5 separate regions of the Homo sapiens genome follow, and regions 1, 3, 4 and 5 are each linked to region 2. Evidence: fine-mapped expression QTL. A gene starts in region 2. Each other region holds a variant in brackets. All regions are shown on one strand. Distances are between the middles of the regions.

Region 1 (6,046 bases), 48 kb before region 2:
TCAGACTGGCAAATAGGAAGTGCTTACTAAGTGTTAACAGGAGAATTACAGGTTCTGTAGGGTCTGAAGCATATTCAGTTTGGTACCTCTTAACACAAATATGTAAAGTTACAAATATTAGGTATACTCAGGAATAATCATTTGCTCAGTGCTAGGGACATGATAGTGACTTGGCATTCTTCCTGTCCTACAGGAGCTTATACTCCATATGTGAAGAGTGGAGAATAAACATATATTTACAAACTAGACAGATTATTTTTGAAAACAGCTATCTTTTTGCACTATCATTTATTCTGAAAGGATATAACTGGCTTTCCTGGGGAAAAGATGGCACTATCTACAGCAAGGTATCCTTTAAAATATGCAAGTAATTGAAAATAGTTGAAAACAGTGATTCTGCATTGTGGGCATTTATCTAAGGAAATACTCAGATAAGCATTATATATATAAATTATATGATATATATATATATATCCATGTATATATATATATATATATATATCCATGTGTATATATATATATATATATATATGTATATATATACCTACACATATTTAAATATATGTTGTAATTGATGGCAAAGAATTCAAAATACATGGTTGTTTGACAATGAGATTAAATTTTTGAATGTTATGCTGCTATGAAAATGATTTTATATTCACAGAAATGTAAAGATCTTCACAAAGTATAATTGAATGAGAAAAATTAGATGATAGAACAGTGTGTATCATACTGAGCAGGAGTGAGATATAGATACAAGAGTGGCTTTCAAGCACTACGTTCATGCATTGTTTTCCTCTGAGTGATGAAATAAGAAGCAAGTTTTGAGCTTTATCTGTAACTTCCAATTCATTTACAGAAAATATGCTATACTTGGTTGGGTAGAATCAATATTGTGAAAATGACCATATTGCCAAAAGCAAACTACAGATTTAATGCAATTCCCATCAAAATACCATTATCATTCTTCACAGAACTAGAAAAAACAATCCTAAAATTCACATGAAACCAAAAAAGAGCCTGCATAGCCAAAGCAAGACTAAGCAAAAAGAACAAATTTGGAGGCATCACATTACCCGACTGCAAACTATACTACAAGGCTATAGTTCTCATAAGAACATGCTGCTGGTATAAAAATAGGCATGTAGAGCCCAGTGGAACAGAATAGAGAACTCAGAAATAAACCCAAATACTTACAGCCAACTGACCTTCAATAAAGCACACAAAAATATAAAGTGGGAAAAGGACACCCTATTTAACAAATGGTGTCAGGGTAATTGGCAAGCCACATGTAGAGGAATGAAACTGGATCTTCATCTCTCACCTTATACAAAAATCAACTCAAGATGGATCAAAGACTTAAATCTAAGACCTGAAACCATAAAAATTCTAGAAGATATCATCAGAAAAACTCTTTTAGATATTGGCTTAGGCAAGGATTTTATGATCAAGAACCCAAAAGTAAATGCAACAAAAACGAAAATAAATAAATGGGACCTAATTAAACTGAAAAAACTTCTGCACAGCAAAAGAAATAAGCAGCAGAGAAATCAGAGAACCTACAGAGTGGGAGAAAATATTTGCAAATTCTGCATCCGACAAAGGACTAATATCCAGAATCTACAAGGAACTCAAACAAATCAGTAAGAAAAGAAAAATAATCCCATCAAAAAGTGGGAATAGGATGTGAATAGACAATTACCAAAAGAAGATATAAAAATGACTAACAAATATTAGAAAAAATGCTCAACACCACTAATTATCAGGAAATGCAAATTAAAACCACAATGAGATATCATCTTACTCCTACAAGAACAGCAATAATTTAAAAATCAAAAAAAATTATAGATGTTGGCTTGGATGTGATGAAAAGGGAACACTTTTATACTGCTGGTGGGAATGTAACTAGTACAACCACTGTGGAAAACAGTGTGGAGATTCCTTAAATAATTAAAAGTAGCTAGGCACAGTGGCTCACACCTGTAATTCCAGCATTTTGGTAGGCCAAGGTGGGCGAATCACTTGAGGTCGAGTTCAAGACCAGCCATACCCACATCATGAAACCCCATCTCTACTAAAAATACAAAAATTAGTGAGGCGTGGTGGTGCACACCTGTAATCCCAGCTTCTCGGGAGGCTGAGGCACGAGAATCGCTTGAACTCAGGAGGCAGAGGTTGCAGTGAGCTGAGATCATGCCACTGCACTCCAGCCTGGGTGACAGAGTGAGACTGTGACTCAAAACAAAACAAAACAAAAACTAAAACTAAAAGTAGAATTACCATTCAATCCAGCAATCCCACTACTAGGAATCTACCCAGAGGAAAAGAAGTCATTGTATGAAAAAGACACATGCACATGCATGTTTATAGCGGCACATTTCGCAATTGCAGAAATATGGAACCAACATAAATGCCCATCAACCACAGAAAACGTGGTATATATACACCATGCGATACTACTCAGCCATAAATCGGTATGAAAAAATGGCCTTTGCAGCAACTTGGATGGAGTTGGAGACCATTATTCTAAGTGAAGTAACTCAGGAAAGGAAAACCAAATATCGTATGTTCTCACTTATAAGTGGGA[G/T]CGATGCCATGAGACTGCAAAGGCATAAGAATGATACAGTGAACTTTGGGGACTTGGTGGGGAAGGGTGCAAACGGGGCAAGGAATAAAAGACTACATATTGGGTACAGTGTACACTGCTCAGATGATGGGTGCACCCAAATCTCAGAAATCACCACTTATCCATGCAACCAAAAACCACCTGTTCCCCAAAAACTATTGAAATAAAACAAAATAAAAAAGGAAATATGCCATACTGTGTAATAAAAATAAATTAATTTTATAAAAAGAATGACCACATCTTACTCAGGGTTCATATATGTCCTCAGTTCTTGATCCATCTTCAATAAAAAGGCATATTTAACAAACCATCAGTTTTTCCAGACTTGGAATAAGCTTCTGGCTCAGATTTAGATGTGTTAGAATAGTAGTGAAATGCAAGTTTGTAGCCAGAACAGGACATGAGCTAAGAAGACACAGATTCCATCTGGAAGGCGTCTTGCCCTTCCAAGTCCAAGTTCATGGATGGAGCATCACTACATTCTAAAGTTAGACATAAAATGCTAACAGTATTGGTATTAACTAATGTGTCATTTCTGTGGTTTAATTGGATTGATTTTCTTGGAAATAATCATCAATGTATTCATCTCAAAAGTCTTGGATGCCCTTGACTTCATAACAGCTGCCATTATCCTAATTGTCTGGGGTTGAGGAATAAAGGACTTTAGATGGCAGCGAGTGGCTTAAACATTTTGGCTTATAAATATGTTGAGCATTCAAGTTGAATAAAATATAACCACTCCATCCCCATGTCCTTTCTTTCTACCCTTTTTCTTTGAAAACAGCTGCTGTTTTTACAATTATTTATTGCTATATTTAAAAACATGTAACATGAGATCTACCTCCTTTAAAACATTTTAGGTATACAGTATAGTATTGTTAACTATGCACATTGTTGTACAGTAGATCTCTAGAACCTTTTCATCTTGCATAACTGAAATTTTACACTCATCAGACAGGAATTCCCCATTTCCCAATTCCCCCAGCTCCTGGCAACCACCATTCTACTTTCTGCTTCTATGGGTTTGACTACTTTAGATGCCTCATGCAAGTAGAATCATGCAGTCTTTGTCCTTCAGCAACTGGTGTATTTCACTTAGCATAATGTTCTCAAAGTCCATCCAATTTGTTGTAAATGCCAGAATTTCCCTCTCTCTCTCTTTTTTTTTTGAGACAGAGTCTCACACTGTCACCTGGACTGGTGTGCAGTGGCACGATCTCGGCTCACTGCAACCTCTGCCTCCCAGGTTCAAGCGATTCTTCTGCCTCAGCCTCCTGAGTAGCTAGGATTACAGGTGCCTGCAACCACCCCTGGCTCGTTTCTTTTTGTTTTTGTTTTTTTTTGTATTTTTAGTAGAGATGAATTTCACTATGTTAGTCAGGCTGGTCTCAAACTCCTGACCTCCTGATCCGCTTGCCTTGGCCTCCCAAAGTGCTGGGATTATACGTATGAGCCGCCACGTGCTGCCGAATTTCCCTCTTTTTAAGGCTGAGTAGTATTCCACTGGGTATTGATATGGTTTGGCTCTGTGTTCCCACCCAAATCTCACCCTGAATTGTAATAATCCCCACTTGTCAAGTGGAGATAATTGAATCATGGAGGCAGTTTCCTCCATACCGTTCTCATGATAGTGAGTGAGTTCTCATGACAGCTGATGGTTTTATAAGTGGCTTATTTTCTTCTTTCTCCTGAATATGAAGAAGGATGTGTTTGCTTCCCTTTCCACCATGATTGTAAGTTTCCTGAGGCCTCCCCAGCCATGTAGAACTGTCAGTCAATTAAGCCTCTTTCCCCTATAAATTACCCAGTCTCAGGTATTTCTTCACAGCAGCATGAGAATAGACTAATACATGTATATATACCACAGTTTCTTCGGCCATTCATCCACATCTCGGCTATTGTGAATAGTGCATGAACATGGCAATGGAGATACCTCTTTGAGGTCTTCATTTCAATTCTTTTGACTAAATAGCCAGAAGTGAGATTTCTGGACCTTACGGTAGGTTTATTCTTAATTTCTTGAGAAACATCCATACTACTTTCCATGGCAGCTGCACCGCTTTACATTCCCAGCAACAATGCACAGGGGTTCTGATTTCTTCTCATCCCTCACCAACATTTGTTATTATGATTATTTTTTATAATGGCCATCTTGACAGGTGTGAGGTAATATCTCATTGTGGCTTTGATATTCACTTACTTGATGATTAGTGATGTGGAGTATCTTTTCATAAATCTCCTGGCCATTTCTGTGTTTTTCCTGGAGAAATGTCTATTCAAGTCCTTTGCCCATTTTTCAATAAAGTTATTCGGAAGACAGCTGCTGTTTTAAACCATTATTTTTTTTAATTACAATTCACATTTTTTTCACTGTTATTCTTTGATTTGGGTGAGATAAACCAAGTCTGATGTAGCCCACTCTTAGATATACACAATAGGAAGGCTAGTCTGCAAGTCTGCTCTGTACCTTTGGGCAAGTGCGCACGTTTCCTGTTATTCCATATATTTAGGAAGATATAGGCACCTTCTTGTTACATATATCTAAGAGTAGACTACATTAGACTGTGCTTATCTCACCCAAATCAAAGACTAATGGTTTAAAAAATAATGTGGCACTTCATCTGCTTAGGCCATCATACCTATAAATACCTGCATAATCTTCTCACACCTGTCACTGATGCAGATTTCCTAACAAGAGATTTATTACTTTAAGCTATTGAGAAACTCTACCTTATTAAAACGTAAAGGAGAAAATGACCATATTGGATTTACTATTATTCCCTTATGTGAAATGAGTATTTTAGGTATTTGCCATGATGACATTTGGCTGAAAAAATAGGGAAGAAATATAGAACACATAAATTATTTTGGAGGAACATTTAGGGGTTAGAAATCCAAAGCCAAGAGCCAAGGCTTGGTTAGATAGGGATGCTCTTTTGAGAGATGCCATGGTGAGAATTCCAGTATAGTCAGGGATGACCAAACAGACTGGGGAAGAAGCAGCACCTTGGCAAGGAAACTTTGGGAAGACATCAAAGACAACTACTTTCTTCAAATGGCTCACCCCTGTTGGCCAGCACACACCATCTGCATTGAAGGTGGAAGACACTATGCCTGAGGCTTTCTTTCCTCACACCCTTTCTCTATAGTAACTTTGTTTCTAGAGTGTCTTCTGGTGGATATTCTTCTGTGCTGAATCTGATTTGTCATGTTCCTTTCAGACTGAATGATAAGTGAGCTATGGCAGCCTACCTAATGACTGCCAGACATATCAATGCTTGCAGATCCTCATCAGATGCAGATATGCAGCTTTAGTACTGGCATTGGTCTTGCAAATGGTCAAAGGATGAAAATAATTCCTACCCTAGTTTTGTTCAGCAGCCACATCTAGGCAAAATTTTCACTCTTTCTAATGTGGCA
Region 2 (6,046 bases):
AAACATTAAAATGCTAATCACAATGATGATACTGGAATAGCAGATTTCTATGTAAAAACACCAGTCAATCTCAGCAGGAAGTCATTACCAAGGTAGGAAAAACATTTGGATAGGAAAGACTGTTCATGAGTTACAAAAGCCATTATCTTCATCTCCAAGATCTTTGAAAATGAAGAAAATGTCCACTTGTCTGCTGGAGTGAAGGAGCAGGAAACAGGACTAGAATAGTGAGCTCAACAGGTTCCTCCTTCATTTGCAAACTTTTCCAAGGCAGACTCTTAAACCAGGAGTGAGTGTGGGATGGTGTCAACGCAGGTTATAATTACGTGCCAGACTTTAATGCATGCCATCTCAAGCTGTTTTAAGAGTAGCTCATTCTTATGCCTTTATAACTAAAATAAAACCTTGAAAATGTGTATCATTTTCTTGCTGGAAGAAATAGAAGAGATTATTTAATTCAAACCTTTTTATTTTATACCTGAGGCAACCCAGAGAAGTTAAGTGATTTACCGAAGGACACAGAGTATCTGATTTATAACCATAAAACCCACCCCAAGACTTTCCCTTGGTATGACGTTAATATTAACTGTTCTACTCAGGGCCAGGGGATGTTAAGGTAACAGATTCAATCATGTTAATATATCAAGTCCAGCCAAATTGCTAGTGTGAAATGACCTCAAGCAGATTCCCAAAATAAAAGCAACAAACAAACAAAACACAGTATTTTCTTGCTTTCCGGGTGCACACAGCTGGGTCTCCTTCATGTGGGTGGGGATTGGAGGCCAACTCACTGCTGTCTCTCGGGCTTCGGGCTTAGCGCATGATCTGGCTCAGAGCCACACTCTCTCACCGCCTCCTCTCCGTGGTGGGCACCAACCCTCTCTGTGGCTCAGCCAGCTTTCTCTTTCCCCAGACAAAACAGGTACAGAGCCCTTCCTTTGTCTCAAACCCCATACTAAGTACCAACTCCTTATTATTTATTACCTCACTGAAACTTCACCAGCACTTCGGGATGCAGGTACAGGAACTGGTAGTTATCTTCATCTTGTAGATTATGTTACAAAGCTATTCTATAGCAAAACTGTAGGGAAAAACCTTATCTATCACTTCCTGAATGCTGTGGGAACTTTTGGCAAGTTACAGAAACACTGTGACTCAGTTTCCTTATCCATAAAATGAGATAACAATAGTGCAGACCTCATTGTGTTGCTGTATCGATGAGGTAATTTGCCAACTAGCTGACTAGAATAGTGTGTGGTACTGTGCAGGCATTATATAAATATGCTGTTATGTTTAATTACTATCCTGTCCCCTCAATGCCTCTTACACATCCTGCACGTGGTACAATACGGCCTCAGGTCTGACCCCACACCATGACCTATGGCTCAACCACCTTCCTTTGTACAGACCTGCGCTGATAAATATGGTAGCAGCTTACCACATGTGGCTCCGGAGCACTTGAGATGTGTCTAGTCTGAATTGAGACGTGCTGTAAGTGTAAAATACCACTGGATATCAAAGACTTACTGTGAAAAAAAGAATGCAAAATATCTCACTAATGATATTTTATATGCTGATTGCATGTGAAATGTTTTCAATATATTGAATTGACTAAATTTATTATTAAAACAAATGTCTTTTGTTCCTTTTCACGTTTTTTAAAAATAAGGAGAGTCCAATTTTTTTGTTTGTTTGTTTTTGAGACAGGGTCTCACTCTGTCGCCCAGGCTGGAGTGCAATGGCAAGATCTCAGCTCACTGCAACCTCCACCTCCCAGGTTCAAGCAATTTTCCTGCCTTAGCCTCCAGAGTAGCTGGAATTACAGGCACGTGCCACCATCCCTGGCTAATTTTTGTATTTTTTGGTAGAGATGGGGTTTCAACATGTTGGCCAGGCTGGTCTTGGACTCCTGACCTCAGGTGATCTGCCTGTCTTGGCCTCCCAAAGTGCTGGGATTACAGGCGTGAGCCCCTGCGTCCGGCCTAGAAAATTTTAAATTACATATGTGGCTTGCATTCTATTTCTATTGGCCAGCACTCGTATAGAGTAGCCTTGTATGTGTTCTTGGTCAGATTCCCAGGGAGAGTTTCTGTCTCAGCCCTGAGTCAGCAGGGCCCTCGCCTGTGATGAATGCCCCCCTGGTACAATCAGCTTTGTCGGGAGAGTGGCATAAGATGCGCTGCCGGCTCAGCAGAGGCTGTGGGTGTGGCAGGCAGGATAAGGCCATGTCTAAGATATGGTGTCCTCCTGATTTTCAACAAGAAATATTACATGAGCAAATGGCAGGATTATTTATTGAGCCATGCAGGTGCGCTCTCTCTACCTTTGCACTCCTCTCCTCATTCTAATTGGTAGTTGGGCCTTTTGAGAATCCGTATATCCAGGGAGTTTGTGTTTCAGGGGCAAAGCTGAGGTGTTGGAGATTACCACTCTACCTGTGGTAGGTGGATTATGCCAGGTGGCCCAGGGTAATGGGGTGAGAGTAAAAAAAAAAAGGAGAGGAGGGACACTTTTGTCTCTAAGACTGGGATAGGAGCAGAGTGGAGTGGAGAAGAGGTTAGCCACTCTCCTGCTAGGGGCAGAGATCTGTGTCAGGACCCAGTGGAGGGGGTGGGAAGAACCCAGGCCACAGCCTTGCTGAAGACCTGAGCCCCTTTTTGGCATAGAAGCCTTCCAACTAACAGTCTTCAAGTGACCACATGAGCTCTGAAAACTATCATAACAGCAGCCATGGAAGGAATGTATCCTAATTTTCTAGACCTCCCAGAATTTCTCATGACTCAGTGGGAGATTGAGATTGCCTCCAATCCTAGTGGGATAGAAGCTTAGAGAAACCAAATTGAATTTGTTTGCTTTTGTTCTGTGTGTGGGGAATACTGGTATCCTAGGCCAAGGAAGCCCAATTTCCCTTGGTGTTTATAGGATAGATAGTCTCATTTACACTTGCAACAAAAGGCTTAGCAACCTGGTCCCTAAGCCAGTGCCTTGCCTATTCAGTCACTCATAGCTTTAGTTTTTTCTGAGTGGAGACAAGGCCTAACAGTCAGAACATTGCTCTCTCTGCAGCCCCCTACTCCACATCACCCAGGACTATCAATCCTAGGATTCTCTCTTGGACGCCTTGCATTCAAACAGCCACCAAATCCTACCTCCACCTGATCTCCTGATCTCCCAAATCCATTCCTCTCTCTTTTTCTTCATTGTTAATGTTGCAAGCTTCTAGGTGATGCTGGTGTTGCACTCTAGGGACCACACATTGAGGAACACTGATCTATAGGCTCTCTGGTATTATCAGGTGTCTCAGCAGATTCTTAGATGAATGAAAATGTGAACTCCAGCTTTAGTGCAATTGATACGGGAGGTGCCTATGCCACGTGTTATTTTTTTGTACCAAACGTTGCTCTTGGGCTAACGTATCAATTCTATTTCACCAAGAGTAACTTCAGTCCACACTGACTCAAGAAGCCAAGAATGCTGAGATGCATTTCATTCAAACATTCTCCCCTTTGCAGGGAGATCAAGATGGAGGCATCCAGCTTCTGCCAAGGATGTCAGTGCCAGTCCTGTGCAAAACCAGTTCCGGTTCTTTCTAGTTCTTCACGCAGGCTTGAACAATGATGTGACTGTAAACCGTGTGTGTGTGTGTGTGTGTGTGTGTGTGTGTATGTGTGTGCTAATACGATTTAGGTTGGATTTGGACACTGAGGAACAGTTCCTGGAGATGCTGAGGATTAGTGGTAGCAGCTGTTATTCTCCCCATTAGAGGAAAAACTGAAAGGAGAAGAAAATACTTATGTTTAAGGGATGTGTTTGCAACTCTGCGGGAGGAAGCCATTCTATCAAGCCTGAAGAAAACTGTGTTCCTAGGTAAGTGGATGTTTTTATTTATTTATTTTTGTAGAGACAAGGTCTCCCTGTGATGCGCAGGCTGGTTTTGAACTTCTGGCTTCAAGTGATCTTCCTGCCTCGGCCTCCCAAAGTGCTGGGATTACGGGTGTGAGCCACCATGCTCAGCTCCAAGTGGATAGTTTTCAGGGTTCAGGTAGACAAGATGCTAGTGGGAAAGAAGACACAGTGAAACCTAAGGCAGGAGGGTGGGAGGTGGGGCTGTGGCCGTAGTCTGTGAGTCCAGGCACTCACTCCCCTTCCCTTGTAGGCAACTGTGTCTGATCTGCCTTTGGAAAGACCACTTGCCATCAGCAAGGACTTGAGGAGCATTTTCATTTCATTTCTTTCTTTTCTTTTAAGAGACAGGGTCTTGCTCTGTACCCAGGCTGGAGTGTAGTGATGTGATCATAACTCACTGCAGCCTCGACCTCCTGGATTCAAGTGATCCTCCTGCCTCAGCCTCCTGAGCAACTGGAACTATAGGTGCGCACCACCATGCCCAGCATTCAAGGGGCATTTTGTATGTGGCCCTTATGAAAGAAAATGAGAAGAACCCTGAGCCCCCTTGACTGAGAATGTGCTTTTACACAGTTCATCTTCATTATCTCCTAATGTGTCTGAGAAGCTGTAGCCATGGTTCCTTGTAGTATGGAGATGTGTGACTTTGGTGCTTCATAGAAAACAAACTTAGAAAAGAAAGGCATTGTCTGAAGGACTCTTATGTCTAAGAAATTTGAGGTATAGATCATATTCCTGTCTTCTTTTAGCTTGTGAATGTAAAAGGTGGTGTTGTGTGAAGAGACAATGGGAGTGGAGGACACTTGATTATTTGGTTTATGGATTATTTCCTTAGTCTATTGTTCTGATAGCTAGTTTTACTACATTTTCAGGATTTTATTTTCACCTTTTAAAACCAGCTGACTACAGGGGAGGGCATTTTTTTTTTTTTTTTTTTGCCTTGCATTGTTCCTTAGGTCAAAAAATTAGCCAAACTTCTAAAATGCCTGTGTGCAGGACTATAAAAAAAAAAACAGAACTTTTTTTTTTTTTTTTGAGATAGAGTCTCGCTCTTTTGCCCAGGCTGGAGTGCAATGGCATGATCTCAGCTCACTGCAACCTTGGTCTCCCAGGTTCAAGCAATTCTCCTGCCTCAGCCTCCCGAGTAGCTGGGACTATAGGCACATGCCACCACACCCAGCTAATTTTTTGTATTTTAGTAAAGACAGGGTTTCACCGTATTGCCCAGGCTGGTCTTGAACTCCTGTGCTCACGCAATCCACCTGCCTCGGCCTCCCAAAGTGCTAGGATTACAGGCGTGAGCCACCGCACCTGGCCTAAAACAGAACTGTTAAAAAATGCCTGTGATAATCCTAAATATTTATGTAGGCAGATTTTCATCTGCCTTGTTTGCTATCTCTCATTTTATTTTTGTCATCTTCTTTTACATTGCCAAATTTTAATTCTTCCTCTTGATGGGAATTAGAGGTAGTAAACAAAAATAAAATTTACTCTATAAATGCTATTTTATTCAATCATTGTATTCTATTCCTGAGCCAAAATTGTTATCAGTATGTTTAAGAAGTTATAGAATAAATTGAGTATTTCTTTCTCTGCTCATCTTCTTTACTAAAAGTAGTGAAATAGCTAAAAACAGCCAAAGAAAGGGCAAAGAGATATCAAAGCATTGCCAGCTTAACAGTCACTTCTAAATAATTGATAGTTGGTAGATGTTTTGTAGCACTTAACTTGGTAATTTTCAATTGCAACAGAGATAAGATGCTCAGCCAAGCCATCCCATGCCATGCTGCCTGACCATGGTGGTGTATTGAGTGTCTACTTCAGATAATGTATCAGAGGCCACACCGCCTTTGGGTACCAGTCAGCTTGCAAGGAGCTCACGCTAGGATACAAACATTTTCTGGTTTTATTTCTTTGACTCAATAATTAAAGCCTCTCTTTTGAACAACAACAAAAAAAGCAGTCTGGTCTTATGAGAAAATTACAAGAACAGAAGTTTTTAAAAAGGTGTTTGGAAATGAAACACTTCCTATAGCCTGGCATTTCCTTTTGATCTTGGCCTTGAACATTAGCAATCCTGGGAGGCTGCACTAAAAGCATCTCAGGTACAGAGGCAGTGTGGGGTTCAGGTTAGTCACAT
Region 3 (6,046 bases), 100 kb before region 2:
CCCAAGAGGCAGAGGTTGCAGTGAGCCGAGATCTTGCCACTGCACTCCAGCCTGGGCAACAGAGCAAAACTCCATCTCAAAAAAAAAAAAAAAAAGCTCCTATAGAACACAGAACTCAAGATACTGACACCATTGGTCTTGTAGCTAAGATGCCTGGAAAGTCTAAGTGTCTATGTTGAGTGTTTACCTTTTTCAGGTGTGACTTTTCTGAGAAATTGTAAGTATGTCATGTCTTGGACATTCTGGGCATTCCAAATCATAAAATAGGATTCCAGATTATTCTGAATGGCTGTATTTACATCATCCATTTCAACATCCATGTCAACATACATGTTGCTGAAGGGGTAGCTTTGGGAACTACTGCTCTGAACACAAATTAATGGTAGGAGGTACTGACTGAAAGCATCATGTGGTAGAAAACCCCAAATGCTTTTTTCAAGAACTATATATGAACTGTGTTTGTGCACGCACAGTTGTATGCTCATAAACGTTAATAAATTGGTATTGGGCAACACAATTAACATTCATTTCATTGGAGGCCCACAATATGCTAGGATTTTTTTCCCTTAATGATGTTTCAGAGCAGGATGCTTTGGTCCGAAATACATTGAAACACGCAACAATGAAATTCTATTTCTTTCTAGTAGTATGTTAAAGGCACCATGGGGGACACAAAATTATGAACCCCAAACTGCACCCTCAGGTTATTTACAGCCTATTAAGAAAAGCCATGTTTTTTCCCAATAACAGAGAATTCAAATACAGCTAGTCCCTGTGTTTGTTGTCAGAAAGAGAAAGAAAACCATACTTTGTTGGGACACATCATTATTAGTGTAACAATATATAAACATATGTCAACATGAAAAGCTTAATTTAAAGTATCATGGCATTACAGATCCCTTGTCTGAAGAATAAACTCAGTCAAAGAAAGTTGGAATGACTTGCCCGGGGTCACATAGTACTGATGATATCAGAACCCAGCTTTTTGACTTCCAGGTGGAGAATTACAGGTAAACTGAGAGTCCCTGGCTGGGTTTGGTCAGGTCCTTTATGGCTCTATAATGCTACGACTCTCTGAGAACTCTATGACCATGCTGCCACTCTCCTGACATTCTTTTAATTAATAAAATCACTCAGCTGAACAAAAATAATGGTTTCATTAAGATGCAGAAAATGCCACATTTAATCACTAAAAATGGCATAGTGTATCATTCACCTTAGGGAAATTTTTATGTTTAAATATGCAATATAGAGATATTTTAGATAATTAGCAACAAGGAAAGGCAACTAATCTATTATTGCATAATATTTGATTACCTATTAACTTCGGCCATGTAATTGAACACATAGCCAATGACTGTCACTTCCTGGCACTAAAGCCCAGGTAGATACTGCTCTGTTTTCATTCTGTCATTCTAGCCATTTCTAGGATGAATTTCCTTTTATTTGGAAGGAGGTTTTAAACTGAGCATTTGACGTCACATTGTTACCCACTGAAAAGTGCTCTCTGTAAGTGCTTCCTGAAGAAGGCAAGGTTGAAGTGAACCCTTTCAAACCAATGCGTGGCACTTTGTTAGCATTTGCTGAGTGTCCAGCACTAAGCTAGGCTTGTGAGGTAAGAAAAGAAAGTTTGTACCTGTTTTTATCACATGGGGCCAGTTACCTTTGTCTGCCTTCCAGGCCCTGGTTGCTAAATCCTGGGAAGTCTGTAATTACATTAGAAGATGGGATTATTAGTGATAAAATGTGGTGTTTTATAGATAGTGCTCTGAAACTTTGTTTCAATGGCCTTTCCCACACAGTATCTCAATAACCCTAAGGTAGGCAGGAAAAAAAATGTTACTGAGGCTCAGAGAATTTAAATGGCCTGCCTGAAATGTGACAGAAGGCAGACCCAGGACTAAAATGGAAGTCCTTGGAAGCCTGGCCCAGGGCCGTTCCTTCCTCACAAGGAAGGACTTGTAAAGAGCTTGCTTAATTCAAGGTTCCTTTGGCCTGGGATATCCTTTTGCTCATGCTCACCTGATGCCTCCAAGATAGGATTTCTGGGTATCCCTTCTTACCTGACATGCGTTCTGGCCACATCTTAGCCTGTAGTGCTCATGTACCTTCTTAGTCTCTAATCTGTCTATTGGTGCTTTGATATGTTAACCACGGGCTATCTTACTCCCTCAATTTTATTTTTGGATAAATTGGAGAAAACAGTTTTAAAACGATGAACTATAAGACTTTGATGCTGATTCTTTATTCTCAGTCCCAAGCTTTGCCTATACTTCAAAACAGATCTCAATGGACAAGGAAAAATAATATCAGCATTTCACTGGGCATCTAAAGTGCTAGGCATTGTGCTAAAAACTTTGAATGTTTTTAACATTGTATCAAGATGGGGACTGAAGGGCTTTAAACCCAGGCAGTCTGAATCCAGAACCCAAATGTCAGCTATGACACTGCTGTTGTCTCCCACAATGCCATACTTGCAAGTTTTGTGTAACACAGAGCATTTAGAAATCTCTTTAAAATTATGAAATTCTGGGTTTTCTTCCCCTGCTGTGGCCCAAACACAAACTAAGAACATACCTAACGAACAGCTGCAATTGATATTTTCATCTTAATTAGGGATTAAACATCAAATAAATTATTCTATTTAAGATGATTTATGATGTCCTAACTTTTCCAGTAGTTCATTTCAAACAGATTTTTAATAGTAGGAGAAAACAGTACCATAGTAACTTTTTAAAGTATGTGTGGGAAATTAACTAAAAATATTAAAAAGATCACTCACCCACTGTTAGCCTTTATTTTTTACCCCAAAACAACATGAGAAAATGAGTTTTTTCTTTTACCTTTGCTGTACCTTCCTCTTTGAAAATAAGCCCATTAATAAGAAGATATAAAAGGAAAATGTATCTCAAGACAAATTAAACTTTTTAAAAGAAACAGTTCTATCAAAACAAGTTTGCAAATAAAAAATAATTACCAAATGAACATATTAGGGGAGTGTAGCCATTAGGCATGTTTTTATTATGCAATAATTTATCCATGAACAGTTTATATTTCATATCCATATTACAGTGTTTTTTTTCCAAGTCACTGGGAGTACTCAAGCAGAGCTGATGAAAATTCATCAATCTGGGAAGTTCCAGAAGGGATTTTGCAGTGAGTAGAAAGTTGAAATCTTGGATGATAACGTCCCTTCCAATTTGAAGATTCTATAATTTCCAACTTAGGCAACTGACATAAGGTGAGTATCCTCATGGACTTGATTCCGTAGTGATGGTGGAAAGCAGTGGTGGACTATCGTGAGCTCTGGAGCCAGCCTGCCTGGTTTTGCTCTTGGACTTGATCACTTAATTGCTGTGTGAACTTGAGCAAGTTTCCCATCTGTAC[C/G]TCAGTTTCCTCATCTGTAAAATGTTGATACTAATAGTATGAATCTCATAAAGTTGTTGTGAAGATTAAATGAGTTAATGTAAGTAAAGTGCTTGAAACAGTCCCTGGCACAGGGTAAATATTCTATATAATAGCTATGCTATTATTTTCCAATAATAATATCGGGAAAATAGTAGATGATACTGGAATAATATTCCAGCAATATTGGAATAATATTGGAAATTGTAGTCCAAAAATATTGGACTATTATCTGATCCATCTTGTGGTCTCCAATATGAAACAAACAGTAGCCCATTGTGAGGTTAATTATGGTGAGTTAAGGGCTCATATCTTGTCTGAAGCAAAGGAAATAAAGAAAAGAAGAGGAGAGGTAAAATGAGGAATTTTATTTAAAGGCAGCAGAGAGATGTCTAATGTTCAGGGAGAAAAATGAACACTCCATAGGCCTAGTCCATCAGGAGTGAAAGTATGACAGGAGAGAAAAAGCCAGTGGTACACAGTCTCTTCACACACACACACACACACACACACACACACACACACACTCCTCAGCAAACACATTTGGGGATTACTGGTCTATGTGCATCTTAAAGTTTTCACTTTAGCACTAGTGTTTAGTTCTAATATTGACCTATGGCTTCAATTTGGCAGCTCAAGTCCACACATTTGCCCTGAGCCCCTGCTAAGTAGCAAGTGTTGTGGAAGCAAAGCATGCTGCCCAAGGGTGCACAGTCTAGGAGGAAGGGGCCGACAGGACTGTGCCCACACTTTTCACTGGGTGGTAAGTGCTGTGATCAGCTTCTATGCTGGATGCTATGGGGGCTGGGAGAAGGCCACCTGACAGCCTACAGGGACAGGGAAGACTTCCAGGCAGAGGTGAAAGCTTCACTTAGACTTGAAGCAGGTATTAGGCTGATGAAGAAAGTAAGCCAAACAAAACAAAACAAAGCAGAACAAAACTCCGAGAAAATTAGACTAAGAAATGTTTTAATTCCTTCCATAAACTTTGAAAATAGGCAGGCCTAGGCTTGAATCCTCGTTTTGCTATTCACTAGCGATGTGACTTTGGGCAAGTTACTTAAACTCTCTGAACTTCAATGTAGTCATCTCTGGGACAGGGTCCCTATCTTATTGTGTTGTTCTGAAAATTAAAGGAACAATGTATGATCACCTCATAACCCAGTGTCTCCCACAGGCTTATTTTGAATATCTGTGGTATTAAAACACTCATACTAAAACATAATAAAAGAGGAAGTAATGATTTGTTGAATTTAGAGGAAGAAATAATGACAAGGAAAGCCAAAAGTAGCACAACAAGCTCTGTATTTAGGCTCATATATCCATTCTTGCCAGAGCCGCTAAGTCAGAGCTGGGGTGGAGAACAACTGGCCAAAGTCCATTACATTCCATCTAATGATAGGTCTGTTGGCAGGTGGGGGGAGGCTATCAGCAACTCACCTTGTCCAGTACCCTCCTGTTATAATACAAAGCTCCAGCTCAAACTGAAAACTTAAAGTACAATCAGCCAGATCCACCTTCTAATGACTATGATGTTTAAAGCATCCACAAAAGTGAAATTCAAATTATTGATATGTTTTAGTAGCACCATCCGTAATTTCACCTAAACATAAAGAAGAAGCAAAACAGGAGCAGGAAAGTCAGTCTATGATAAAAGCTCCCATTTATCACAGGCCTCCTATGAGTTAAGTACTGTTTATTTGCTATTTCTAACGCATATTGCAACTTACAAGGCAGTCCTGTTCTCCTTCACAAATGAAGCATCCACAGCACAATTGGTGACTTCACAAAGGTCCCATGGCTCCTAGGTGGGAAGCCGCCAGAAGGCAGATCTGATTCTAAAGCTGCTGTCTGCATGCCAGGCTAGTACAGCTCTCAATCTGGGATCAGGAAAGAGAGGTACCACATGTGGTCAAGGAGCTCCCACATCCCCAGGAGTCCAAGGGTTGCCATTCTTCCTCCTTCTGTCTCTGTGATGTCACCACTACAATGTTGTCATATTGTGAACTGTTCTGGTAAGTTACAAATTTTTCCACAGAAAAGAAGAGAAAGGGCTACCCAAAAAATGGGAGAGGAAAAACTAATCGTAAGTCTTCAGAGCTAAGTGAAGTTAAGAACCTGACCTTGGATGGGGGTATCCTAACCCAGCGGTGGCCTTAGTCACGTCATACTTCTGCTTCGCAACTGATCCCAGATACAGACACAGTCTAATTGAAAAGAAGGAGTTATCTGGTTGTGAGGTGTATTAACTTCTTAGGTGAAGTAAAATGCTTTGAAACAAGGTGAATTTTAAAAATCAGATATCTTGATTCAAATCCGGTCTTTGCCACTTAATAACTGTGTGATTAAGCCTCATCTACTTATCTTCTAAATGAAATTAATAGTATTTACTTCACTTTTCTCATCTCTAAAATGGTGATAATAATACCTATCCTCCTAGCATGATGGTAAGGATGAAGTGAGAATAAAAGCTAGCATGTAGAAAATAGTAACCGAAGTTACCTATTGATAATTTTCTGTGATTATCTTAATTAGCTACAGTATAGCATTCTTACATGAAGTACCTGGATGTGGTAAATAATCAATAAACAGCAGCTATTATTATTAACAGGGCACATTTTTGTATTGGTGCAGGTCTGCT
Region 4 (5,890 bases), 39 kb before region 2:
TTTATGACCTTTCATATAAGGCCAAATGTAAAGGCAACTTCAATTGTTTTATATCTCAGGGCCAGCACATAGCAGATGTATGAAATTTGGAGTGTTAGACATAAACTTTTATTACCAAATTATAAATAATTTCTCCCACTTATAATGTTCACCTTTCAAGTTCATCTTGATTAAAATACAAGGGCAGCTTCACACCGATTTCACTAAATTTTACAGCTGAGAGAGGTTTTCTAGAGTTCACGGTGGAGTATAAAGCATCACAGCATTTGGGAGATTCTCCTTCCAGGAGCTCAGACTCTGATCCTATCTCTTTTAAAATTCAAGTCATGCCAAAATGATGGCTGATGAAGTCCGAACATTATTTAAACATCTCACATGTTACATCTGAAACCAAGCGCCCATGATGTAGAATATATCACTTCCTTGGGTAAGCAAAACGACATACTACTTTTTCTGAGAAATTTGCCCACCAGTCAATGAGCTTGTATCACTTCTTAGAAGGTATTCAACAACCAGAGAGTGTCTGTCTGTTTCCTTATTTTCTTTTTTCCCCTCCCTCCCTCTTTCTTTTCCTTCTTTCTTTTTCTTTCTTTCTTTCTTTCTTTCTTTCTTTCTTTCTTTCTTTCTTTCTTTCTTTCTTTCTTTCTTCTTTCTTTCTTTCTTCCTTCTTTCTTTCTTTCTTTCTTTCTTTCTTTCTTTTTTCCTTCTTCTTTCTTTCTTTCTCTCTTTCTTTCTTCATTTAAGAAACAGTCTCGCTCTATCATCCAGACTGGAGTGCAGTGGCATGATCTCATCTCACTGCAACCTTAGCCTGTCGGGTTCAAGAGATTCTCATGCCTAGCCTCCCAGGTAGCTGGGATTACAGGCATGTGCCACTACACCCAGCTAATTTTTTAATTTTAAGTAGAGACGGGATTCAACATCTTGGCCAGGCTGGTCTTGAACTCCTGACTTCAAGTGATCCGCCAACCTTGGCCTCCTAAAGTGCTGGGATTACAGGTGTGAGCCACTGCCCCCGGCCTCTCTTCATTTTCTATAACAAATAATTTTCATATCCCATGATTAAAGGCAGATAATGGTGGCCCCAAGTATCCAAAACTAGCACATCACAGCTTATGAGCTCCTATTGTACAGTCTGAAGGTCCAGGAAAGGTTCAGGTCCATGCCAGCACTTCATACCAGTTAATGCATTGCTCCAACAAGACCAGCCAGTATTCTTGGAAGCTTAACATCCATGTTACATATTAAAATCTGCTTTGGAGAGTGTTGGTCAATCCAATTACATGTTTGTATTTATCATCATCATCATCATCATCAACAACAACCACAACAACATCACAATACATTCATCTACATGTTCACAGGGCTGTTGGGTGTTTAATAAGCTAGACATGAGACCATCTTTTATGAATATGAAACATTGAAGGACATAGTTATTTAAAGGCATATGTACTATAGAACTGTAGAAGGGACAAACAATGAAGTGGCAAGAGTTCTCTTAGCATTTATATATCTGCATTTGTCTATTTTAAGCATAATAGCTTCAAGAGAATGAAAAGACAAGCCATAAACTGGGAGAAAATATTTGTAAAACACATATCTGATAAAGAACTATTATTCAAAATATACAAAGGACTCTTAAAACTCAACAAAAAGAAAGAACAAACTGATTCAAAATTGGGCCAAAGACCTGAACAACCAAAGATATACATATGGCAAATAAGTATATAGAAAGATCCTCCATATCATATGTCACTAGGGAATTACAACTTTAAACAACTATGAGATAGTCACTAAGCAGCTATTAGACTAGTCAAAATCCAAAGGACTGGAAGCACCAAATGCCCATGAGGATGTGGAACAATGGAAACTCTCATTCACTCCTAGTGGGAATGCAAAATGGTACAGCCACATTGTAAGACAGTTTGGCAGTTTCTTACAAAACTAAACATACCCTTGCTATATGATCTAGCAGTCATACTCCTTGATATTTGCCCAAATAAGCTGAAAACTTATTTCTATACAAAAACCTGCATACACATATTCATAGCAGCTTTATTCATAACTTCCCAAACTTGGAAGCAACCAAGATGTCCTTCTGTAGGTAAATGGATAAATAAACTGTGGTACATCCAAATAATGGAATATTATTCAGAACTTAAAAGAAATGAGTTGTCAAGCCATGAAAAGGCGCAGAGGGGTCTTAAATGCATATTTCTAAGTGAAAGAAGCCAGTCTGAACAGGCTACACAGTGGGGTGGTGCAGTGTATGCACCACTAACTGTGTACGGTATGATTCCAAATATATGATATTGTGGAAAAAGGCAAAACTTTGGAGACAGAAAAAAGATCAGCGGTTGCCAGTGGGGAGGAAGGGATAAATAGGTGGAGCACAGAGAATTTTTAGGGCAGTGAAACTATTCTGTATGATACTGTAATTGTGGGTACATTTCATTATGCATTTGTCAAAACCTATAGAATGTGCAACACCAAGAGTGAACCCTAATGTAAACTTTGGCCTTTGGATGATAATGATGTGTCAGTGTAGGTTCATCAGTCCTAACAACTAAATGAAACTAAACTACATAAGTTAAACTAAAGCTTGCCAAAATATTTTTATGACTTTAAGGCTCCTTAATAAATTAATGTTTACATTCAGGGTTTTGAAGACTAGTATTCACCAAAAGTCTTGCAGTGTTTTCTTTGCATCATAAAAGATGCTGAAAGCAAAAACCTGGGAAATACGGAAAATTGCCTTGTGAGTTAGTAAAAGTCATTTATAAGCTGCTGAGGGGCTTTTGGGAACAGCCACACTTTTTATAAGCTTGTTAGCTCATGAATTAATTCAGGATGCCCACCCCGTGTGTCAAACTGGGCCCTTACCCAGCTACTCCCCTTAGAGAAGGTTGCAGCTGCTCAGCAGATGAACTAGGCCCTTAAAACTCCTCATGGCTCCCTACCCACCACACTAGTGTTAA[C/T]GGCTCGATTAGGGCTCTGTAGGAAAGGGAAAGAAGTTTGAATCAAAAATTTTCTTTTTTTTTTTAATAATTTAAACAATCAGTAAGGAATGTGCAATTTGATGTCGTTTGCAAAGAAAGTTTTTAGGAACAGGGCTTTTTATCCTATTATGTTTGTTCTTTGCACGTAATTATTTGATTTAAATGGTACTTTTCTTAAAATTTTTATTTACATTGTATTTTATATTGCAAGAACTTCAAATACAGCCCTCACAATAAATCAGTAACTGTTCGGTCTTTATCCAAACTGAACTTTTATAGAAGGATATAAGGAAGTCTCTATTCTTTAACAAATCATATCCAGTTGTTTTCTGTCCCTGATATCAATCAAAAGTTCATTTCTTCTGCCTTTAACCAAAAGAAGTTTACAAGGGAGGAACTCTTTATCTTCGAAAAAAATTTTGCATCTTAGATTTTATAACACCTAATGGGGTTAAGGATCTGTGTTGAAAGATCTTATCACTCTGTGTATAGTGTTACAAATCATAAATATAATTAAAGTATAAGTTTTCAACTGATGAGAGTATATGTGGAGGGGGAAAAACGAATCAAGTCCTGGTGTAACAGTTCTCTTCTTTTTCCCTTTCAATTCCATTAATAGAAAGAGTATTGAGAATTCATGCAAAATTCCAAACCAAGTTCCCATAGTAGCACTGAAATAAGTCTGCACACCATTTCCAATAGGAACTAGTAATGTAACACAATTAATGTCATTATAATTTGGAGTTACTTGAGTGATTTTGATTATTTTTGTATCAATTAACATTGCCATGGAAACAGTCTCTTGCTAAAATGGCTTAAGTCTTCACACATTTAATCAATATCCAGAGGTAGATTTAAAGACTTGAGGTGTTTCATTTATTTATTTATTTGCTTTAAACTATTCAAGGACGTTTCTGGGTACACAATGCCGTTACTTAAACAGTAAATTCCAGTTTCCTATGACTTCAAGTTATTTTTTACACTTCTGTAAATAAATCCTGCCCAAAAGATCACTTCTAGTTTCCTGGAATTTTGTTTTTGTTTTGTATTGTATTTGTTTTGTACTCAGATTTCTGTTAGAGGAACTCCACTGCACCAATTTTGCTACTAGACAAACCAGGAATCTTGGATTTGCGCGCTTTGGTGCTGACAGGCTTTTTCGGCCCCAGCGGGCTGCCGTAGCAGAGAAGAGCACTGATTGGCTGAGGCAGAAAAGTGCCCCTGCCTCGGCGCTTTCGGTTTTGGCTGGGATCATCCGCGGCGGCCGGGCTCGTGGGGCGCCTGGAGTGAGGGTTCTGGTTCCCGCCGGCGAGGTGAGCCGCACCGCTGCGCGGGCCGACGACGGGGCCGGGCGCAGCCCCAGGTTCGGTGCCCCAGTGTTCAGTCGCGCTGTGGAGCGGCGGCTGCAGCGGCCCTAGGCCGGGCGAGGCAGCCCCGGAAAGGGCCTGCGGTGAACAGGCTGGGGCTCCGGGAAGGGACCGCTGGGTGGCGGGTCCCCGCGAAATGCCGCGTCCAAGCTCTCCGCGCATGGAATGGCTGGGAGAGGTCTGATGGTGGGCGCCGGGACCGCCCTCAGCGAGGCGCCTAGACTGCGCGGAGAGGAGCGGCACCGTCCCGGCTCCTACCGAGTTGGCGTCCGAGATCAATTCAGGTTGTTGAAGTTCCCCAGGGAGCCCCGACGCTAATCCCAAGATTCGGCGGGAAAGCGGATCCCGAACCCAGGCCTAGGCTTCGCCTGTCTTCCAGGAGGGCTTCAGGGAATTGCGAACCCTCTCCTACATCGGGGTGGCTGCGCCTGACCACAGGAATTAAAGGCTGGACTCGCCTGTCTTACCAAGTTGTCAGGTCGAGGAACCCGATTGTATGGTCTTAAGTCCTATCGCCCAAGGTTTTCTGTGCGTATGCGTGTCCGCACACCTGCATAGCAGGCATTTTTAAGGTGTGTAGGATTAAGATGATGCGGATTACCCTGCCCCACTGCTCTTAGTAATACGTGACTATTGTAGAAAATTGCAAACATAGAAGACTTTAGTGAAGAAAATAATATTCACTGAACCCTTTCACCTACGATCATTTTCTCTTGTATGTGCTAGCTTCTACTTGAACTAAGAGTGTACATGTTTAATCACTTAACAGTGTAGTTTTCCACTTCCATTTAAAAACTCTTCCTAAATATTATTCTAATTTTGTATCTTCTTTTGATTGTCCTATCATTGTGGGTCCCAGTTTAGGTCCCGTAAATTATTCAGTCATTTCCCGATTGTGGGACATTAGATTGTTTTTGAATTTTTACATCATCTTAGCATCCCAGATAGTGCTTTGATAAACTCTTTTCCCCCTATTTTTTAGATTATTTCCTTGGACTAGATTCTCAGAAGTGAAATTATCAGATTAGATGCTGTCATCTGAAAGGTCTGTTTTAGGCCTTCATACACATTGCTGCAGTGTTTTCCAAAAAAGTTTTAGAGATGTTTGGTAATTTTACTTGCTTAAATATTGTGCAGAAATCTTGAGAGGCTTGTGTTTGTGGTGTGTGTGTGTGTGTGTGTGTCACTGGCGTTAATGCGTTAGACTACCTGAATGTTAGGGCAGGAAGAGACTTAAGTGGTCATCTGGCATAACTCCCTTATATTGCAGATGAGGAACCTGGGGCCATGAGAAGTGAAATTATGAGTTATCCAAGTCACACAGCTAATTAAGTAGCAGAGCTGGGATTAGAACTCAGGTTTCCTGCCTCCCAAGTGAGTACTCTGTGCTGTATCAGGCAGTCTCTCACTGAACTGTGGCATAGTAGATACTAGAATTTAAAAATTTGTTTACATCACCTGGGTTATTCTCTCCTTTTAAAAGTGTACTAACAGATTTTAATCATCGGAGAGACCTGTAACACT
Region 5 (6,046 bases), 25 kb before region 2:
TTTTTGGTTTTGTATAGTAGTTTATCTCATGGAAGGAAAGGGTTGTATTTCTAACCCCCTGGGCAGTTTTTTTGTTGTTGTTGTTGCTTGTTTGTTTGTTTGTTTGTTTTTGCCTTTGCTGTGAGAATAGATATTTTAATTAGAAGTGAACTCTTTTTTTTTTTTCTTTTTTCTTTTTTGAGACCGAGTCTCACTCTTTCGCCCAGGCTGGAGTGCAGTGGCTCAGTCTTGGCTCACTGCAACCTCCGCCTCCCAAGTTCAGACGATTCTCCTGCCTCAGCCTCCCAAGTAGCTGGGATTACAGGCACCTGCCACCATGCCTGGCTAATTTTTGTATTTTTAGTAGAGACGGGGTTTCGCCATGTTAGCCAGGCTGATCTTGAACTCCTGACCTCAAGTGATCTGCCAGCTTCTACCTCCCAAAGTACTGGGATTACAGGCATGAGCCACTTTGCCCAGCCTGGACATTTCATTTTGAAATTCTTTTCATTGGTTTTCAAACAGGTTTGCATATTGTGCCTCAGATTTTTCTTGCTCATTTATAATTGCAGTTTGTATGTAAAATAGTACAGCAGGAAACGAGCTAAAGTTGTAGCTTAAGCTTTCTTTTGCTAGGAAATAATTTTATTATTCACAGTCCATTCTCGTTCTTTGAGAGTTTACCGCTTTTAGCAGAATTCTGGTAGATTAATGTCTTTTGCTGTCATTACACAATTTTGAAAGGAAACTTTTTTGTTTAGAGGATAATGGGGGCAGAGGCAGAGAGTGAGGAGCATATTAATGAAGTTAAGACATCAAATGAGAAACTATAGACTCGACTGAATTGAATCTAGTATTTGTTTTTACTTAAATTTTTTTTTCTAGGAAATACCACTTTAAATTAGAGACAGAATTAGAGGCTTACAGATTTTCATCTTTTGAAAAAGATCATCAGGTCAAATTTTACAAAATTTATACCATCTTAACACAATTAAAGATTGACTCAAACTGTTTCCTTGAAAGCTCCCTCGAATGTTTTTGGCCATTTTCTCTATTAGTTTTGATTGGAAAATATTATAGCTGTAACAAAACAGAACAAGATGTGTTATAATGCAATATGTTGCCCTATATTCTCAAGCTGCTCTTCACTGTGAGTCACAGCTTTAAGATGTTCTTTCGGGAGCACCTGCTGTCTCCTCTTCTATTATTTTAACAGATTGTGGAGACTTCCTTTTAACCCTGGAGTACATTCATCTGCTGCAATAGATGTTGTAAAAGAATGAAATAAATCTGCCAGACCCGTATTTCACTTAGTGGCTAAAGTAGGAAATGCCACTGGAACCAAGGATCATTTGTTTATGCATAATTGCCCACCTTGTGCTTAGCTTTCAAAGAATGGTATTTTTGCCGGAATAGTCTTATTCTCTTACTTTTTTGAATGCTTTAAAAGTTTCTGTGTGGTCATACGTACCATGAGGGAAGTGACAGTTTGTTGTTTTACCGGGTAGTAGTGGGTGCGTGACTGCCTTCCTAGACTTCATTCAGATTGGCATAGAGTTGTTTTGTGCTTAAGCTGTTGAGTTTCATTTATGGTGTGAATTTTTATATTAAGCATCTAAGAACTAATGAATAAAGAGATTGTCTGCTCTAAGGTATACCCTGTAATTTTCAACTCTTATTTGCCTTGTGTATCTTCTTTTTGACTAAATATGTCTGCAGGGGTCCTGGCTTGCCTGGATGGCTACATGAATATAGCCCTGGAGCAGACAGAAGAATATGTAAATGGACAACTGAAGAATAAGTATGGGGATGCATTTATCCGAGGAAACAATGGTAACATTTCTTCGCCCTACAGTACAGCATTCAAAATAAGCCTTTCTATTTATAATCCAGATCACCAAAGAGGTTTCTAGATAATTTAAAAGTCCACTTTTAGGCTTGATTATTTTAAAATGCTTATATGTCAGATCTTCAGTTTGACCAGTTATTTTGTAGATGCTTCATGGAATTTTGAAACCAAAATTCTCTCCTTCCCTTCCTTTAGTGATGAGGAACTGAGGGACATTGTTCTCCTTACCTGGAACCCTGCTTTCTCGAATATAGTGTAGTATATCTCCCCAACACATATTCCTGCTTCTTGTAGCCTGGAAGTTGGAGATGTAAGAATGGGCACCGTTTCCCTGCTGTCTTTGATTTGCATAATTTGGCAGTTCGTCCTATTTGTCCCTTCTCTATTAAACATTCAGATGCTTTCTATGCAGATTTGCATCCTTCAGTTTGGCAAAAATGGCAAAATAGAAAAAGTTACTCAGTTTTTAACAACTAATAAATTGCTATGATTTTTATAGTTATTTTTAAGTACCTAGTTTAAAAATGAAAATTATAATAAAGTCATATTTGTATTTTTGGTGGGGAGGGAAAGATATCAGAATTATGAGAATTACCCCACTTTTTGGTTCCATCTCCCAGAAACTCTGGGATTCTTGAGTTCAGATTTTTTGTTGATTTCTTTAATTCTGGATGTCTTCAACCCCCTAAATAGTTGGATCTCTTTGCTATAAACTAAACTTCCTGACTTTTATAATAAGAGTCTGTCCCCTATGCTTACAGGACCTTATTTCTTCATATCATATTTTTACATACATTATTTCCTGGCTTTCTAGTCCTTTCTATTTATAGAATTATTTATCCTATTTTTCATATCCTTATTTGACCTCCTCTTTTTCCTAAGAAATGTTATGATCTTGTCTCACCTCAAGACAGCTAATGGCAGCAGTCACTGGCAGGTTGGGTTCTGTGCGTGTTGATAGGGTAGATCCTTTAACGTGCACACTACCCCTAGGACTTGGGGGGCAGGGTTGGGGGGCGGCTGTACTGGCATTCTGATGCTTCCCTTCATGTCACATTTCCCATGATGTAATCAGTGACACTCATCTTTAGACTCCCAAGTTCACATCATTGGCTCTTAAAGAGGATCTTGACTTATTTGATTCATCTGTGCTATGTTCTTTGATGAAGACACCTTACTGTTCGCTTTGAGCAGACCTCTCAGAAGCCGAGTAGGCATGGAAGGTGGAAGGGAGAACCACCTCTAGTTTGGCCAAAGTGACCCAAGCATTTCATTTTGTTTCATTCCTACGGACCACACATCCTACGAGTTCATGTTGGTAGTCATGAGAAGACCACTAAGCAGAACATTAGGTAACACCAAAGTATGAGACTTTTAACGGGAACTCAGAATAAGGACTTTGGTATCATT[AAAAAAT/A]AAAAATAAAAAATAAACTCCTTAGCTCTTGTTTATCCTGTTGCATTTAAGAAGGTAAACAGCAAGTTTAGAGTTTGTATTGGGGAGACAGATGAAAATATGTTGTTTATTCTTAATTTGAGATCTAGCCTGGTTAGATTTACTGATTTACTTTCTGAAAAGCATCTTTTTTTTTTTTTTTTTTTCCTGAGATGAAGTCTCGCTCTGTGGCCCAGGCTGGAGTGTAGTTGTGCAATCTCAGCTCACTGCAGCCTCTGCCTCCCAAGCTCAAGCAGTCCTCCCACCTCAGCGTTCTAAGTCGCTGGGACTACAAGTGCATATACCACCATGCCTGGTTAATTTTTTGTATTTTTGGTAGAAACGGGGTTTCACCATGTTGCCCAGGCTGGTCTCAAACTTCTGAGCTCAAGTGATCCACCCGCTTCAGCCTCCCAAAGTGCTAAGATTGCAGGCGTGAGCCACCGTGTTCAGCCCTGAAAAGCATAATTCTTATACTTCTAACTATAAAGCATTCTTAGATACCAGGGACTTTCACATATATTTTATTTTATCTTCCTGGTCACACTTTAAAGAGTCAGTGAGACACATGGATGAAATTAGGACAGTTTTGTAAGACATCAAACCTGGGTGTAGATTCATAAAACTAGTCTTACAGTACTTCTAGAGTTAATTGAATGATACGAGAATTCCTTTTAAATGTCAGATGTATCAGACCAAAATCTGTTGGCTTTTAAACTTGCTACTATGTATACTTACAAGCAGGGTTTTTTAAATTTCAATTTATGTATTTTTTTCTTTTCAGTGTTGTACATCAGTACACAGAAGAGACGGATGTGAAGACACCAAGAGAGCAACGCTTTTCATAGTTGGATATATTTTTTTATGAATTTTTTCTAATTTTTGCTTCTTTTGTGATACAATTTGTCCTCTTTTTATAATAGTTGGTGATTTTTCACTGACATGTGAGTAAGATAAATGTATACAATTGTGGATTTAATTGTGAAATGTTCTTTCACTTGTAAGTTTCAGTCATTTTCTTTTACCTCGTTGTCAGTGTACAGAATGCTAAAATAATTAAAAAAAGACAAAATATACCTCTTCCTACAAGATTATTTAACTTAAGTTTCGAGAAGTGTCATTTCATTTGACTTGCTTTTCTTATCCAGCTAAAATGATGCATATATTTTATATATTGTATGGACATATAATTAAAACATTTTGGAGGAATCCTCCTTTATTGCATCCTTTTCTGTTCATACAGAATCCTTGCGTGAATATGTTCTACAAAGGCATCCAGTTTCAGTCTGAAGCTACAAAAAGGGGCCACAGGATCAGAAGTTCAGCCACTGATTGAGTCACCTAAATAAAAAACAGAATTGGAAAGCCAAGAGTGCCACTTGCACATAAGGAGTGGGAATTCGAACTGAGGTGCTGGAGAAATCCTAAAGATGAACAAGATTTCAGTGAGGAGAAAGCCCTCCTGTCAGTGGTCCCCCTGCATCTCCTTATGCAATTAGACTTTTTAGGTTTCCCTGCTCCCTTTCAGGAGCATTGGCATCAACGTTATTCTCTCAGTTTATGAACACAGTAGGGGAGGGGCCATTCCTGTACATCTCTCACAGTCAGATTAAAGCAAAGCCTAGAGTTTGTAAACATAATTCAGGTTCTAATTGCCGAGCTGAGATTGGGAAAGAATTTTTCCTAACTCTGGTCTAGCAAGTGGCTGTAGGGAGGCCTTTCTCAAAAATCAGCTGTATTTGCCTTTGACATTGTCCAGGAGCAGAGCACCAGGCTTTATGTTGCTTGGCACAAGGCAGCTCCTCTGGTTATGTGACTCCTGCTGAGAGGATTTTCACAATTTATTAATGAGCTTTCCACAACCCTGCTTTATTCTCCAAACAGTTTTACGCTGTCTCTAGGAACAACAAATATATCTGGGCACTGTGGTTGAATGAATACCAGACAATTGTGTGAATGTTGTATTGGACTTCCTCTTCCCTCCCTTCCCAATCTAAATAGCATTCCTATTTCAGGAGCCGATGGTGTGATTCGAAACAACTGCTTGGTTGAAGGATGGGGGGCAGGATCGAGAAGGAGAGAGGGAAGGGGCAGTGCTGATTCTGGAGAGGTGTATGTAGTGTTTTGTCTTGGTTTATTTTAAAGATCAGAGAGTAATTGGAAACAATTATTTTTTAATTAATAACTTGGGAAAGGTGAACAGAAGCATTTCACAGGGTTTTACCGTGTGCACACTGAAAATAAAACACTTTATGCTATGCTTCAATAATTTATCACTTCTTGACAGGGGCTTGGAAAAGGTCCAGTATGTAAGTACAAATCACCAATTTGCTCTTTTATAAATGAGTTCTTTTAAGGAGAAAATGGATGGCTCTCCAAGTGGAGCATACATGTTCTCATTTGTTTTGTAGAATATGTGGGGCTGCAGGTTATTGTGTCCCTTCATTCACTTATATCAGCCACCTCTAAAAGCAATTCCATTGTAGTCTCCCACTAATCTGTAGCGTCCTGTTTTTTCTAACTTCTTCCCTGACCTCGCCTTTGATATATAAGTCTTTATTTTCCCCTTGCCATCTCTCTAGTTTAATAGCTCTACAGTGGAGTACTGTTTTCAACCATGGAACTACTTTTAATCAAGATCAACTTTGGGAAGTGCTGCCATTTTTATGGTAATAAAGGACTGTATTATGCACTTGAACCCGCTCAAGTTGTCCCCTGTGTATACCTTCACATAGTAGAACCATGAAACAAAGTGTAAATGCTTAAATTGCTTTGTTCTTAACT

What was found. PIP is the estimated chance that this variant, and not a neighbour inherited with it, causes the effect.
Region 1: its variant is fine-mapped to the expression of REELD1 in whole blood (TOPMed, PIP 0.97).
Region 3: its variant is fine-mapped to the expression of REELD1 in whole blood (INTERVAL, PIP 0.96).
Region 4: its variant is fine-mapped to the expression of REELD1 in lung (TOPMed, PIP 0.91).
Region 5: its variant is fine-mapped to the expression of REELD1 in whole blood (TOPMed, PIP above 0.99).

The regions. Positions count from the first base shown.
Region 1 is chr4:146,162,435-146,168,480 of GRCh38, forward strand. No RefSeq gene overlaps it. Among named protein-coding and RNA genes, the nearest start is that of LSM6, 10 kb to the right of the region's middle. The variant G/T (reference allele first, on the strand shown) is at 2,588.
Region 2 is chr4:146,210,828-146,216,873 of GRCh38, forward strand. REELD1 (reeler domain containing 1) reads left to right here and starts at 3,711. Exons shown (of 8, transcript NM_001354631.1): 1 at 3,711-3,867; 2 at 4,249-4,371.
Region 3 is chr4:146,106,466-146,112,511 of GRCh38, forward strand. It overlaps LINC01095 (long intergenic non-protein coding RNA 1095), which reads right to left. Exons shown (of 6, transcript NR_038331.1): 4 at 5,136-5,285; 5 at 4,846-5,008; 6 at 2,990-3,401. It overlaps LOC105377469 (a long non-coding RNA gene), which reads left to right. Exons shown (of 3, transcript XR_939294.1): 2 at 1,420-1,615; 3 at 3,073-3,160. Among named protein-coding and RNA genes, the nearest start is that of LINC01095, 12 kb to the right of the region's middle. The variant C/G (reference allele first, on the strand shown) is at 3,388.
Region 4 is chr4:146,171,500-146,177,389 of GRCh38, forward strand. LSM6 (LSM6 homolog, U6 small nuclear RNA and mRNA degradation associated) reads left to right here and starts at 4,219. Exons shown (of 4, transcript NM_007080.3): 1 at 4,219-4,312. RefSeq lists a silencer at 4,369-4,428. The variant C/T (reference allele first, on the strand shown) is at 2,979.
Region 5 is chr4:146,185,576-146,191,621 of GRCh38, forward strand. LSM6 (LSM6 homolog, U6 small nuclear RNA and mRNA degradation associated) reads left to right here. Exons shown (of 4, transcript NM_007080.3): 3 at 1,699-1,812; 4 at 4,047-5,960. The coding sequence ends at 4,081. Among named protein-coding and RNA genes, the nearest start is that of LSM6, 13 kb to the left of the region's middle. The variant AAAAAAT/A (reference allele first, on the strand shown) is at 3,239.